Linked DNA regions of Homo sapiens: region 1 is linked to region 2. The links come from fine-mapping of genetic effects on gene expression. Tissue or cell type: whole blood. Region 2 holds a variant in brackets; the other region holds the start of a gene. All regions are shown on one strand. Distances are between the middles of the regions.

What was found. PIP is the estimated chance that this variant, and not a neighbour inherited with it, causes the effect.
Region 1: NOTCH2 starts here. The variant in region 2 is fine-mapped to the expression of NOTCH2 in whole blood (INTERVAL, PIP above 0.99).

Annotation. Positions count from the first base shown.
Region 1 is chr1:120,065,079-120,072,577 of GRCh38, forward strand. It overlaps NOTCH2 (notch receptor 2), which reads right to left and starts at 4,584. Exons shown (of 34, transcript NM_024408.4): 1 at 4,256-4,584. The coding sequence starts at 4,328. LOC101929178 (a long non-coding RNA gene) reads left to right here and starts at 4,750. Exons shown (of 2, transcript XR_254374.4): 1 at 4,750-4,933.
Region 2 is chr1:120,381,622-120,389,120 of GRCh38, forward strand. No RefSeq gene overlaps it. Among named protein-coding and RNA genes, the nearest start is that of NBPF8, 30 kb to the right of the region's middle. The variant C/A (reference allele first, on the strand shown) is at 4,549.

The sequences.
Region 1 (7,499 bases), 320 kb before region 2:
TGACCTTTATAAATTGCAGAAGTGATCAGAAAAAGAAAGAAAGAAACCCCACACACAAAGAAATTCAAAATTACAAGTTAAAATGAAACATCTGGGGAAGGGAAAAATTTGGTTTTTCCCCAAATGTAAGGTAAGCATGACTCCTGCAAATACTGTTTTTAAAATGTCTAGGAGTACCACAGTTGTCCAAAATAAGAAAATGGCTAAAAATAATTGTTCGACTGAACAAGTATTTATTGTGTGCCTATTAGATACCAAGGCATCATGCCAGGTACAGGGGTAGGGTATGGGCATTAGAATAAACACATAAATGAAAATACACGATTCCTTCCTCATGTACGCATTAACAATAAGCACTTGAGGATGTTATAAGAGTTTTTGTGCACATAAGCGCATTTGTACACGAGATGGAAGCAATGAGGACAGTGAATGAGGCACTGGACACCAGAAGAAAGGAATTCTAGTCTCAACTCTAATTGGCTCTGTGACCATGAACAATGAACATCAGAAAATGGAGGACGGAAACAGTGGCTCTCCTACAAGGTCACCAAACCAATTAATAACAGACCTGGAGAAGAATTCTGGTCTTCTGGCTCCTAGTTCAGTGATCTGTCCAAAATACTACACATACGGTAGGCTGACAAAGAAAGAAAAGAAGACCTTTTGGTTTCAAGTCATTTGCAGAGAAAGGGGGAGAAACAAAAACAGGAAAATCAGGAAAGGGTGGAAGGAAAATCAATAGTTCAAATTTAGGCATTCGAACTGAGACATCAAGAAAGGAAGCATGTAACTATGGACTGTGAACACAATATAAAGAAAATGATGTAAAATTTCTTATATCCTTATTCAAATCACGCCTTGCAGTTTTTTACTCTAAAATCATTGCAGACGTATATAGATAAAGGGTCAAAAAACAACATGTATGAATGACATTTAAGGAAAAAGAGATAACAGAAGAAAAGGGAAAAGGAGAGGTGGAGAATTTATTATATCATCTAAATATATGAAGCCCTTCTAAAGGGTCAATGCAGACATATTGCACCCAGATAAATAGAAGAAATGACATTATATTCTATATCTCTTACGTTAGCAATTTTTAAATTCCTTGAGTCAGAAGCGTTAAACACTGGAATGACTAAGGTTACATTTGTTATGGAAATTTCTTAAATTTAGAAAGACCTCATACACACACCTGAAGGTAAAAAAAAATGTACTTAATCAGTGGGTTGCAACCAAGTTACTTGTCAGAATCACCTGTAAACCTTGAAAAAATATGGATTCTCAAACTTACCTTATCAGAATCCCTGGGTGCTGAGTCCAAGATCCACCCCAACAGATTTTGATGTAGCCAGGACACAGAGTTTTTTCTACCATAATGGGAGAGGTAGGGAGGAGGATCACTAGGAATGGCAACACAGAGTGGGAACTAGATCAATGCAAATTTTGTGGGCAAAATAGAATTTCTGTGGGTGTGATATTTTTAAGATGTATTGTAAGGCTGCTCTGAACCATCCAAGCATATCCCACTGAATTTAAACATTCTCTAAAGGTCCTGAAGTCAGCAACTACAATCCAGGTGAACCAAAAGTTGCTCCTCTATGTCATAGAAGCCTACAGGAGAGGCAGTAGGGTGGGAATGGAGCAGAGAGATCCCAAGAAGTTATGGGTAAATATTTTTTAAATCTAAACATTCAGAAAAATAAGAGAGACTAGGAATCACTCTCCTCCTCCTCTCCACCACACCAAAAAAAAAGGAATAATAAGAAAGTGAAAGGAAAAATAGTTTTAGGTTAAATTTCATCACCATCTGAAAGAAAATTACTCCGATTTTGTTTAAGCAAGAGAAGAATTCAGCTGAGAAATTATCTAGCAGGCAGCAAAATCAGGGAGTCACTTCCCATTGCAAAGCAAAAGAAAACAAGGAGCAAGAGGATGGTCCTGGATAGCTGTTTAGACAATCAGACATACTGCTAACATCTCCTTGCCTTAGAAACTCCGTGATGTTTAAATTAACAATTGGCCACAAGCCAAACACAGGAACACTCAAAAGTTTAGAAGGGTGTGCTGCAACTGGTACCTTAGCAAAACACAATAATAAATTAAGAGGATTCAAGAAGCCTTCACTGTAGACTCTAAGAAGATTTAAGATTTGTACCGAGAAACGGCTTCTAAATCTCTTCTACTGCATTAGTTTAGCATCTAAAGAACACCTGTCTAAAAATCAAAATATCTAAATCCTATCCTTTGAGTCAACTTGACTAACACTCAACTTGACTACCTAAAAGCTAGCTAATAATCGCAGCACCTCAGCAGAGCAGAGGTGGAGGGCATAGTTTTATGCACTGAGATCCTATAATAAAAGAAGCCCTATGTGTCAGAGTAATCCCATTTCTGATATCATATTATTTAATACTTAATTTTTCAAATCACTTTACAATTATATTTATTATTCCCTACAATTCTCTAAAGCAGGTTATTCCTTTAGTCCTGCTTCATAGGTGAGGAGACTACATATCATGAAGATTAAGTTATTTACCAAAACAAGTTAATGATAGACCAAGGATTATTACCCTCAGACTGTCTCATTGATCATACTCCTCTCTATCCTAAAGCTACACTTAAAGCTTTCACTCAAAGAAAAAGGAAAAGCAAAAACACCATCATATATGCTCTTTATTAAATGCTTCAGAAACAACGGCTCTGCTTCATCACTACAAAGCCTCCTGGTCCACTTCTGAAATTCTTAGTGACCTAGACGTGTACGAAATTTGAACTTTCCAAGAAGTATCTAGTTGGTGCTGAACAACCCAGTACTATTTTCGGGTGATAAATAACCTTGTTCTCTTTTTAAACATCTGCGATTGACATGTCGACTGACTGTTAACAATGAACAAAGACCATATTTTTCTGAAGCTCATCATCTTCCTAACCTTTTCTTTGAAAACAGATGTAGTTCATGTACTAGTTTTTTGGTGAAGGTAAAAATCTTTATTCAGATTAGGCTCAGAAAAAGAAGGGGCTGCTTTCCGTTCAACAAATATGCACAAGACAGCATCCCACTGGGAGCATCAATCTCAGAAGCAGTAAAACACAGCCTCGGCCCTGAAAGGACTTTCTGAACACCTTTGGAGTGTCATCCGTTTAATATACATTATTTTAATTAATCCTATTAGCTGGATAATTTCTTTCCCATTTTATTGGTGAGTTCATATAGCAGAGCTGGATTTGAATCCAGGATTACAGAGCAGGGCTCCAAAGCCCAAGTTATTTCCACTAAAGGGTCTGAAGAAATGTAGAATCTAAAAGTGTGGGTGGGATGGGGAAGATATGATTTGATTCCCTTTCCTTGGTCCAACCGTGTTAGAAACATCCAACCATAAAGAAGCTTTCTAAGGAAGCCCTTTGAATTAACGTATCCACTTTTTCTCACCCGCCCGTGCCCCACCCCCAGCCATGCCAAAGGAGCAGCAAATGCTGCTGCCAGGTTGGAGGAATTGGTGATCGTCACACCACATTCCTGGGTCTGGACACAGCCTGAAACAGCAGCAGAGCTCCGCGCCTCGGAAAGAATAACAGCAGTTGAGATTTTTAAATCATGTGCCTCAGCATGCAGCCACACCAGTTGCCCTACTTCTCCTGCCTCCACCTTTCAAAGACGCGAGCAGCACACACGGCTCCCCCGGACTTTCGGTGGGGTTGGAGTGTCAAAACTCAGGCGCGCCGCAAAACCCCGTCCCCATCCAAACCAAGCCCACACACCCGGCCCATGTGCCGCCCCCTGGCAAAGGCGAGGCTGGCTGCGACGGTGCAGGCCGTTTGGCTTGGCGGCCCTGCCCCCGCTCTCCACGCCAGAATCTGGCATTCCTTCGCTCAGCCCCTCCGAGGCCCGCCGTCGGCTCTCGCTCGACCCCAAGAAACGCGGAACCTGAAGGGCAAAACTGCCCACCTCCCTGCACCCTGGCACTACGAAAAAGGAGTTTCTGAGACTTGCTGCCGGCCTCCCTCCTGCCGAGGAGGCGTGTAAGGGGTCCCGGGCCGCGGGGAGCAGAGGCGGCGGGGAACCCCGGCGGTTGGCGGGGCACCACGGGAGGGGCCCCCGGCGATGTCCAAACTCTTGGGAACCCAGCGAGTGGCCTCGCTCCGCGCCGGCGGCCGAGCCTGGCCTTCCCACACAGAGAAGGACCGAGGGGGAGAAGGGTCGCCCCAGGTGGCAGCCCCGGGCGCCGCGGACAGCGCCCCTCAGCCCGATACTCACCATGCGCGGGGGCCGCGCAGCACAGCCAGAGCGCCAGCAGCGCCCACAGCAGAGCGGGGCGCAGGGCGGGCATCTTCTCGGTCGCCTCCTCCTCCGCCGCCGCCGCCGCCGCCTGGGCAGATCCACATGGGGAGGGGGTCCCGATAGAGGAGCCCCACTCTCTCCTCCCCTCCTCCTGCTTCAAAGGCTCAGGCCCTGGCGCTACGCTCCGAAGCCCAGGCGCAAATGCCTCGACTCCCCGCGCCCCGAGTCCGCCGCTCCTCGGCCGCCGCCTCAGCCGCCGCCCGAAGTTTGGCTGAAACTTTCTCGGGTGTGCAACGAAGCAGCCTCGTGTGTCCTTCCGCCTCAGCCGCCTCCTCCCACCGCAAGCCCCGCCCCACTGTCGCCGCGGCCTCGGCCCCGCCGCCTTGGGCACCCAGGGGTTTCCCGCAGGAAGAAGCGCCGGCCCGAGCTCCGCGCGGAGGGATCTACTACGAGTCACTGGCCCCGTCCGCATCCTTCTCCAGCGGCCCCGGGGGCCGCCGCGCCTTAACTCGATCAGGGCTGCAGCGGCTCGCTGGCTTGACCAGTGCAGAAGGGGCGTGGGGGTGAGGGGGGTGGGGTAGGACTCTGAACTTCAAGCACTGGAGTTTGCCGGGATCGTGAACTTGCAGGGAGAGGCGGTCCTCATCCAGTGAGGTCTGTATCGCCACCTACACCCACACATCCACACACTGCTTTGCTAGCTAGAGGAATGCTCTGGAGTAGGACCAGTGCTGTCAAAGAAGGAAAGTGGGCCAAGGCGCCAAAGTCCATTAAAAAGGAATAGAGCCATCACGGAGTGGTGCTGCCCCATTCATTCATTCATTTGTTCATCCGTGTAGCGAATATTTCTTAAGTGCCTTACTTTGCGTAGCTGTGTGCTTGGCAGTGGGATGATACCAAAGATGCACAAGCAACTTTGAGTACCAAGACTTTGCCGCTGTGGGCTGGGGGATTCAGGGAAGGCTTTCCCAGAGGAGCTGGGATGAAAGCAGGATCTTGAAAGGTCAGTAAAATTTGTATAAGACAAGGAGACCAGCTAAGCTAAGGATATTCGTTGTAACACTGTAATAGCAAAACCTTGAAAACAACATAAATGCCCACCCTTAGAGGAATGGATGAATAATGTATGGTATATTTATAAAATGAAATGCAACACAGTAATTGAAAAGACTATAGCTATTTATGTCAATAGGGATAAATCTTAAAAACTAAATGATAGTGAAAAAACTAATCACAGAGGGAGACAAAGTATACCATTTATGTATATTTTTTTCAAGACAATACTACACATTATCTGTGGATGCATATATATAGATATAGATATTAAGAGACTATAACCAGAATAGTAGTTACTTCCAGGGCAGGAGAGTAGGGGGTGTGATCAAACCTGGGTACAAGTGGGCTTCTAAGAAAAGAGCTAAAAGTAAGAACAGCAACAATAGTTGTATGGACATATCATTCCAGGAAAGAGCCCTCGTGAAAGCAAAGGTACAGTCAAAAGAGTAAGTAAATGAGTTCTGTCTCTGTTAGCAGTGAGAGGAGTCAAGGACGGAAAGGGGGTTGGGACCAAATTATGCAGCCTTGAATGGCAAGCTGAAAGGGTGGGGAGGCAGCTACCTCTTAGGTCACATAAAACTATTGAAAGTTTTTGAACAGAGTTGAGATTGATGGAAAGGAAGATTGCTCTGATAATTCTGTAGAAAATTGATTGTTGGGGGAGCAAGAGGTGAACTGGAGCCCCAGGACCAGTCAAGAGTTGGTGAACAGTCCAGGCACAAATTTAAGAAGACCTGAACTAATAAGGTAGATTTCAGAAGGAATGAATCCGAGACAATGTTAAAGAAACAGAAAAAAAAAATGGAGGTGTGACTAATTGGATGTGGGAGTTTACAATCCTGTTGGGATGGGAAATCCTACCCATAGAACCTCTCCCTGACTCCTATAGGATAAAATTCAAACTTCTAAACATGGTACATACAAGGCCTTTTCGTCATTGGGCCCCATCTCCTGTCCTCCCTGCCCCTGTTGTGAACTTCACACAATAACAGTATTGACTAACTTGAGATTCCCCCAAACATATCTTGCTGTTTCTGTCCCTGTATCTTTTGTTCCTTTGGCTTGGAATGACTCCTGTAGTCCCCTTCCCTCCTCCTCTTAATGAACTTCTAATCATAATTCATCCTTCAGTCCAAAGAAGGCTTTGCCGACACCGCAATAAATTCCTCCCCCTAACAGACAGTCCCTCCACTGTCTTCCACTGCCGCTTCTTTATCTTAACACCGATACTTATTTTTCACACAGGACTCTTTGTATTTCTGTGTTCTCAACTAAGTTTTGAGGTCCTCATGGGCAAAGACCACAGCCTATTAATCCCCAGTGTCTATCACATAATAGATGTTGAACTAGAATGTGAAACAACACTAAGCAAGTACAAGTCAGTATGGGCATAGACCTATGAAGTTCCAAAACTGCATGTTAACAAGCACTTTAGGTAAGCAAGTACCATTAGTGAAAGTAGTCACATTGAAATACTGGAAACCCTTTTCAAAAATAATGTAGTCAAAATATTTTTGGAATTTGTCTTGTGCAAGTATGTTCAGAGAAAGATAACATTATTTTTCAGTTGTTTACCCACAGTGTTACCAGTTCGATCTTCCTCTTTACTCACTAAAGATAATTCATAGTGACTTGGCTGCATACAAATTTTAAAAATCACCTGCAAAGATAAGTTTTGTCACTATTAAAATATATTCAGAAGAATATAAGATAGTTATCCCCAAAGAGCAACTCTAGAAGCGACTGTAGCTATGACAACATTATTAAAATAAATGTGCAGGCCAGGCGTGGCGGCTTATGTCATAATCCCAGCACTTTGGGAAGCTGAGGTGGGCAGATCACCTGAGGTCAGGAGTTTGAGACCAGCCTGGCCAACATGTTGAAAACCCGTCTCTACTAAAAATACCAAAAATTAGCCGGGCATGGTGGCGAGCACCTGTAATCCCAGCTACTCAGGAGACTGAGGCAGTAGAATCACTTGAACCCAGGAGGCAGAGATTGCAGTGAGCCAAGATCGTGCCACTGTACTCCAGCCTGGACAACAAGAGTGAAACTCCGTCTCAAAAAAAAAAAAAAAAAAAAAATAGGTATGCAGTTTCTCAAAGTAACCGTTTTAAAGAAAGCAGCTATTATGTTCACATATAACTTTTGTTGAATATGTTAC
Region 2 (7,499 bases):
AGAAACAGTTCTACAAAGACCCTAGATTTAAAAATAATCAGAGAAAAATGTTGTAAAACAACTCTTCTCATAACGTCCAAAGCTAGAACACACTTGAAACAATCTCAGCAAAAGAAAGCTGTCAAATATGCAGCCATAAAAAAGGATGAGTTCATGTCCTTTGTAGGGACATAGATGAAGCTGGAAACCATCATTCTCAGCAAACTATCGCAAGGACAGAAAACCAAACACGGCATGTTCTTACTCATAGGTGGGTACTGAACAATGAGAACACTTGGACACAGAAAGGGGAACATCACACACCACGAGCTGTCGTTGGGTAGGGGGAGGGGGGAGGGATACCATTAGGAGATATACCTAATGTAAATGACAAGTTAATGGGTGCAGCACGACAACATGGCACATGTATACATATGTAACAAATCTGCACGTTGTGCACATGTACCCTAGAACTTAAAGTATAATAATAATAATAATAACAATAATAATAAAAGAAAGCTGTTAAAAATGACCAGCATAGAATCTCTCTTCCCCACTGTCAGACAACATTTCAGTGGTCCCTGTAACTATTGCTCTGGTCCTGAATAAAATCTTTCTTGCCATGCTTGAAAAAAAAAAAAACAGAATTGCAAAATATGTCTCTGACAAAGGACTAATATCAAGAATCTACAAGGACCTCAAAGAATTCAAGAAGAGAAAAAGAAACAACCCCATTAAAAACTGGGCAAAGGACATGAACAGACATTTTTCAAAAAAAAAAAAAATGCAAGCAGCCAACAAACACATGAAAAAATGCTCAGAATCACTAATCATTAAAGAAATGCTCATTAAAACCACAATGAGATATCATCTTATATCAGTCAGAATGGCTGTTATTAAAAAGTTGAAAAAAGAAAAAAACAGAGGTTGACTTGGATGCAGAGCAAAGAGAGAACGCTTATACACTATTGGTGGGAATATAAATTAGTTCAAGCTCTATGGAAAACAGTATGAAGATATCTCAAAGAACTGAAAACAGAACTACCCTTTGACCCAGAAATATTCATAACTGGACACCTACCCAAAGGAAAACAAATCATTATAGGACAATACCATGACAATAGCAAAGTCACGGAACCAACCTAAGTCTAACCTATGGGTCCATCAATAATTGATTGGATAAAGAAAATGTGATATATATACACATCATGTAATACTACACCACCATAAAAAAGAATGAAATCATGTCCTTTGAAGCAACATGGATGGAGGTGTAGAACATTATTCTAAGTGAATTAACTCAGAAACAGAAAATAAAATACTGCATATTCTCACCTACAAGTGGAAGCTAAACAATTGGTACACATGGACATAAAGATGGAAATAATAGACACTGAGGTTTCCCAAAGGGGAGAGGATGTGAGTGTTGAAAAACTACCTATTAGGTACAATATTCATTATTTGGGTAATGGGTGAACTAGAAGCCCAATCCCCACCAGTATGCAATATACCCATTTAACAAACATTCACATGGACCCCTTGAATCTAAAATAAAATAAATATTTTTTAAATGACTGGAATGTGTGAAAAAGGAAACAAAGAACATTTCTAAAATAGAAAGATGCAAAAAATAAATTTTTAAATGCAATGGCTGTTCACTATTTTGTAGTAGCTAAAGTAGGTACTAGTGAATCCAAAGATCAGTCAGAAGAAATTATGCAGAATGCATCACAGCAAAACAGAGGCAGTGAGACATTTTACCATATTTTTACTTGGATTCCTAAACAAAGAGGAGAAAGAACATAGAACAGAGAAAACCTTTGTAAGTAATATTTTAAGATAATGACTGATACCCTACATCAAAAGAAAGCCAACGGGAAGTTCCTAAATCTATAGAGGGTACACAAACATAAAACTACACTTGAACATGTCATGGCGAGTTGGACGAACCAAAAACAATAGTAAAACCAAAGAACAACCACACACATGCATAAATCCACAAGGTAGTGAATAAAACAGCTTACTTTCAAGGCAGCAGAATGGCATTGACCACTAACTACTCAACAGAAATGATGAAAGACGGATGCCAGAAGAATCAGATCACCAAAGTGCTAATAAAAAATAATTGCCAATCTAGAATTTCTAGGACCCACTTTTTAAGAGTAGGATGAAATGCAGACATTCTTGGGCAAACAAAAAAAGAGAGTTTATCTGCAGCATATCCTCAGAAAAGGATGTAATTAAATCAGAGAAAAAGATGAGGATCAAGAAGGTAGGAAACATGCAAAAATCATGACAAGTAGTTTTTGCCATTAAGAAAAAGATGAAACTAATTAATTCCACAAAACAAGTCAAGAATAACTCATGAATTAGAGGGAGCAGAAATGGAGTTGCCATCTTCAAAGGCACTCATTTTCAGGAGATGTATACAATTTTTGGAAAAACTTGTATTTGAAAAGTTAAGTATGCATTTTGCAATTTTCAGAGAGTGAAAGAATAGCAACAAAATACTTATAAACTAGGAAAGGAAAAATCTTGAATAAGAAAATAATCTAACCAAAAAAGCCACATTTAAGTACTATGTTTATTTTGTTAAATTAATTTAAATTTTAAAAAATTATCTTCACTCTATGCAATAATATTTGTGAAATTTTGACTCTGGTGTGTAAATTAACTTGTTTACTGCATTGAATCCTTTGTCATTTTTGTAATACTTTGATTATCTCCATCTAAATATTCAAACATCACCTCTTAACATAACCAGTGGTACACTTTCCATGATTTAGATATGGTGGTCTGACTAGCGTTGAAACTTGAGAGAAGCTAGCCTCAATAACAGGACCCAGGGATAACCATCTAGTTCTCCAGCGAAGGGCCTTAAGCCCTCTGGGGGTCCACCTTGTTGGTTACTCACTAATCAAAGATGTGCCCGGCCCCTAGTTTTCTCCTCCCTGACTCAAGTTCATGTCATTCAACTCTCTGCCTGGTTCACGGACTCATGGTATTCTGCCCTACTCCTGCTGCTTGGCTATCCACCAGTTACCAAAAGCTGAAGTTGATGCAACCACGTGAAATTTCTACAAGACCCTCCCCTCTTTGGGCTCCCATCACATTGTCACTACTGCCAGATGTCATCAGCGTGAGAGAATCAGTGGTGGTCCACAGGAGCATCTTGTTGTCCCTCCCTAAATGATACCAGCACCACTTTCCTCCCAAAATCAATGCTCCCAACCACAATACCCCCCTTGACTTCACTTGTGTTCCCAGCAAGCCATCAAAACTAGCACCAAGGCTCTCTCTAGGAGGCTATAAATATGTATGTTTTCCTTTTTTCTGTCTTTAAATGGTGAGTTAACACAAACAGACCTACATACACCAGACCCCAAGGTATCAATCTGGATCCCTTCACAGGATCCTTTTCCATTCACAGAACCAAGAAAAAAAAGCAAACTCTGAAGCCCAGCCCTTCCCTCCTCTATTCCGGAGCAGGCAGCTGATGGGACGCAAATGGGGCTGCTGAGCTTCAGGGTGGAAATGGAAGCCAGTGCCTTGTGCTCCTTGTGATGTGAAACGTGTTGCAGCTGCGCAGAGAAACAAGAGTTTTCACTGGACACAGTGCAAGGAGCAAGCAGGATGCCTTTCATGGACAGAAGCTGCATCTGTCTATACTTCAGCCATTCAATCAACAAACATTTCATGATCATCAGTTACTGCTATGAAAGGTAGATGCTGAGGGTAAAACAAGGAACAAGATGAGAATGCCCCACTCCCATATGGCACATGTAAAAGCATAAAAGTCTATCTGAATCATTTTTGAAACAGAAGGCCCATGACATTTCCTGCTGAGTCCACGTTGGCTCTTGTTTGTGGATACCAGCACATATTAAAATTATCTGAAATATTCAGTTGTGAGCCCCCTCCCCTGATATGGTTAGGCTTCGCGTCCCCACCCAGATCTCATCTTGAATTGTAATCCCCATAATCCCCATAATCCCTATTTGTCAAAGGAGAGACCAGGTGGAGGTAATTGAATCATGGGGATGGTTTCCCCCATGCTGTTCTCATGATAGTGAGTGAGTTCTCCCAAGATCGGATGGTTTTATAAGGGGCTTCTTCCCCTTTGCTTAGCACTTCTCCTTTCTGCCACCTTGTGTAGAAGGTGCCTTGCTTCCCCTTCACCTTCCACCATGATTGTAAGTTTCCTGAGGCCTCCCCAGCCATGCTGAACTGTGAGTCAATTAAATCTCTTTCTTTTATAAATTACCCAGTCTCAGGCAGTTCTTTATTACAGTATGAAAATGGACTAATACAGTGAGAAAAAAATAGCTCTGGAGGGCTGGGTTACATTCAGGACATGTACTAAATATTTTAATGCATTTTTTTAGCAAGCACGTAAAATGTCTCCCCCAAGGCTTTAAGCTCTCTTTCTACTTCCCTAAAGGTTTCCCCATCAAAATAGGAAATAAATATTGAAGCTAGAAAAGGCTTGTCCCCTTCAAAGTAAGTAAGGGCACGCTTCATGACAGGCATAACTTTCTTCAGACAGTGGGGGAGGACACTTAATTCCTT[C/A]ACCAAAGAAAAAAAAAGTTACAAAACAGCAACCTATGGAAACAAAAACATGGAATCAATGCATCGCCTGAAATAACTTCTCTGTAGTCCTGAGGGTGGTGTTTTGTTTGGCTTGTTCTCCTTCCCACCTTTTTATACCCCACAAGGATCCTTCTCATTCTGTTGTAGCCAGGGCTCCTAGAGAAGGCTGTCAACATTGAAGGGCCCAGATCCCTTCTACCAGTTTTTCTTGTGCTTCCTATGTGCTTGTAACTGTGAATCTCCTGCTTTTCAAACAACTCTTCTGCCTTTTGTATGGGTATACATTAAAGGGGAAAATCAGGGCCTCTTCACACTACTCTGGCAAAATCAACCTGAACTGCTGGATTATAGGTCTTGGCATCTGGAGCTGCCTGCTTGAGCCCTGGCAGGTCTGGAGGCTTGGGGCTCTTTCATTGACTCAGGAAATATTTCTGCTTCCCACCCAGGACTTCTGTTGTCTCTTCCTCCCTTCTCCTCCCCTGCTCTCAGGACTCTTAGATGTAGCCCAGGTTTGCTTCCACACAGTTGACATTGGCGGTGCATGGTCTTCTCCCCTCTACGCCCTCAGATCTCCATGCCTGTGCCTATGACACGTGCCACCTGCACCTGTGTAGCCAAGCCTGGCTCCTCATCCGTGGCCACTCCTGCCCCCACAACCTGCCAGTCCTGCCTCCTTTTTGCCTGCCTCCTGCCTATCTTTACTTCACTGATTTATTTGGCTGGAAAATATTTCTACAACTTCCCCTCCCACACTCACCTGGGGCTATGACATTGTTGTGCACACTGGTTGGGCCTCGCCCCTGCCACCTAACAAGTACATCCTACAGGCCCAGGAGGGCATTATCTGTGGTTTTGAATTTCTAGTGTCTCGAACTGTACTGGCCCAGAGAGGACCTCAAATATGGAAAACTGAAGTGATTGCTTTCTGCACGCGTTACCTATGCACCCATGCATAACTCACACAAACTTACTGAATCTTCATTTACTCTTCTGTAAAAGGGGAGTAATCAAAGAAATGCACTTTACTAACAACAAGAGGATGGCATAGTTTATCTTTTAAACTGATAAAGATGTTCTGAAATAAGAATCTATGTTTTCAAGGGTACAGGACTTTGGTAGTTACACCATGACAGTAAAGATGCATATTTTAGGAACTTGGTGGGGGATAATTTGACAATACACATCTACATGTTTACATTGTACATACCCTTTGACTGACACTCCACTGTTAGAAATTTGTACTAAGGAAATAATCAGACCTACAACATAAGCACTTAGCTATAGGAATACTGGTCAAAGAGTTGTTGATCATACTCAAAAATTAGAAACAATCTAAATATGCAATAAGAAATATTTAGGCCGGGCGCGGTGGCTCACGCCTGTAATCCCAGCACTTTGGGAGGCCGAGGCGGGCGGATCACGAGGTCAGGAGATCGAGACCATCCCGGCTAAAACGGTGAAACCCCGTCTCTACTAAAAATACAAAAAATTAGCCGGGCGTAGTGGCGGGCGCCTGTAGTCCCAGCTACTTGGGAGGCTGAGGCAGGAGAATGGCGTGAACCCAGGAGGCGGAGCTTGCAGTGAGCCGAGATCCCGCCACTGCACTCCAGCCTGGGCGACAGCGAGACTCCGTCTCAAAAAAAAAAAAAAAAAAAAAAAAACAACAAAAAAAGAAATATTTAAAATAAATTATATTGCATTCATCTGATGTAATATTATACAGACATTTAGAAAGCTCTTATAGTCAAAGGATAAGTAGGTTACCTTTGGCATATTAAATGAGTAAAACTGATACTAAGTTGATATACCCATTGTGATATAATTTTCTTTGGTTCTTAAATATTTTTATATACCTAAGGAAAAAGATTAAAAGCTTATGAAACCAAAATATTCACAGTTTAGTTATCACAGTCTAGTGTGATTATGGGTAATTTTTATTGTTTTAATTTCATATTTTTCTGTTCAAAGTTCCATTGCTTGTTTAATTAAAAAAAACTTTTAAATAATATTATAAAATGACCATCACAGAAAAAAATATCATTAGGCAATATTGCCATGACTATAGACCTTTCTCCCTACACTGTTATTCTTACAGTTGGATGCTTTGAATCGGGAAGTGATATATCGCCTTGCTTTTCGCTGGAGAAGGAAGCGCCAGCCTTTGTGAGCATGTGTATCACAAGCTAACTAGCACGAAGATTGCATAGCTCTTTCTACATAAGGCTACTGTTCGCAGAAATTTGGTCCATGGTCTCCAGTCTCTTGGGGTCTCACGCTCTGTGAAAATCTTCGTGTTTTTCCCTAGCCCCCAGAGTCACCTTTCACACAGCGTCTGCTTGTAACCGCGGTCCCCACAGGAGTTTGTAGGATTTCTGTGCCAGCGGTGAAGGTGTTCTCACCTCATAGAGCAAGGTAGAAACTACGCAGACAGGCGCTGTTCTTTGGGATGAAAGCAGGGCCTTTGGGGCTCTTTCTTAGTGTCCCCGTTCGGTTGTAGACATAACACGCTTGCTTTGTGTAGGAGATCGGCTCTGCCGGCGCCCAGGGGCCCTAACGCAGTTCATCGAGGCCCGCAGGTCAGAACTGCAGTCTCACCTGTCTTGGCGGAAATGCGCTGCGCTCCTCCCTGTACTACATAAGCACGAGAATTCCACTACAGAAGAAAACCCCAGGCCTAGTGATGGCGGTTCTGGGCATTTTGCCAGCTTCTCCCAGGGTGTGCTTTCTGACCCCACCCACTTCTGATCTGTAATGTCATGGTCAATAGAAACTACTGGGCCCAAACGGAAAAGGCAAGGAGGAACACAGCGGGAAAGCCTATGGCGTTCCCTGGTGGCTACCCCGGGGACTGCACTCATAGATCCGCGTGTTCCGAGAAGCCTCTGCCATCCCGACCCCGGAGCCGTGCAGAAACCCGCGGCTCCAAAGAA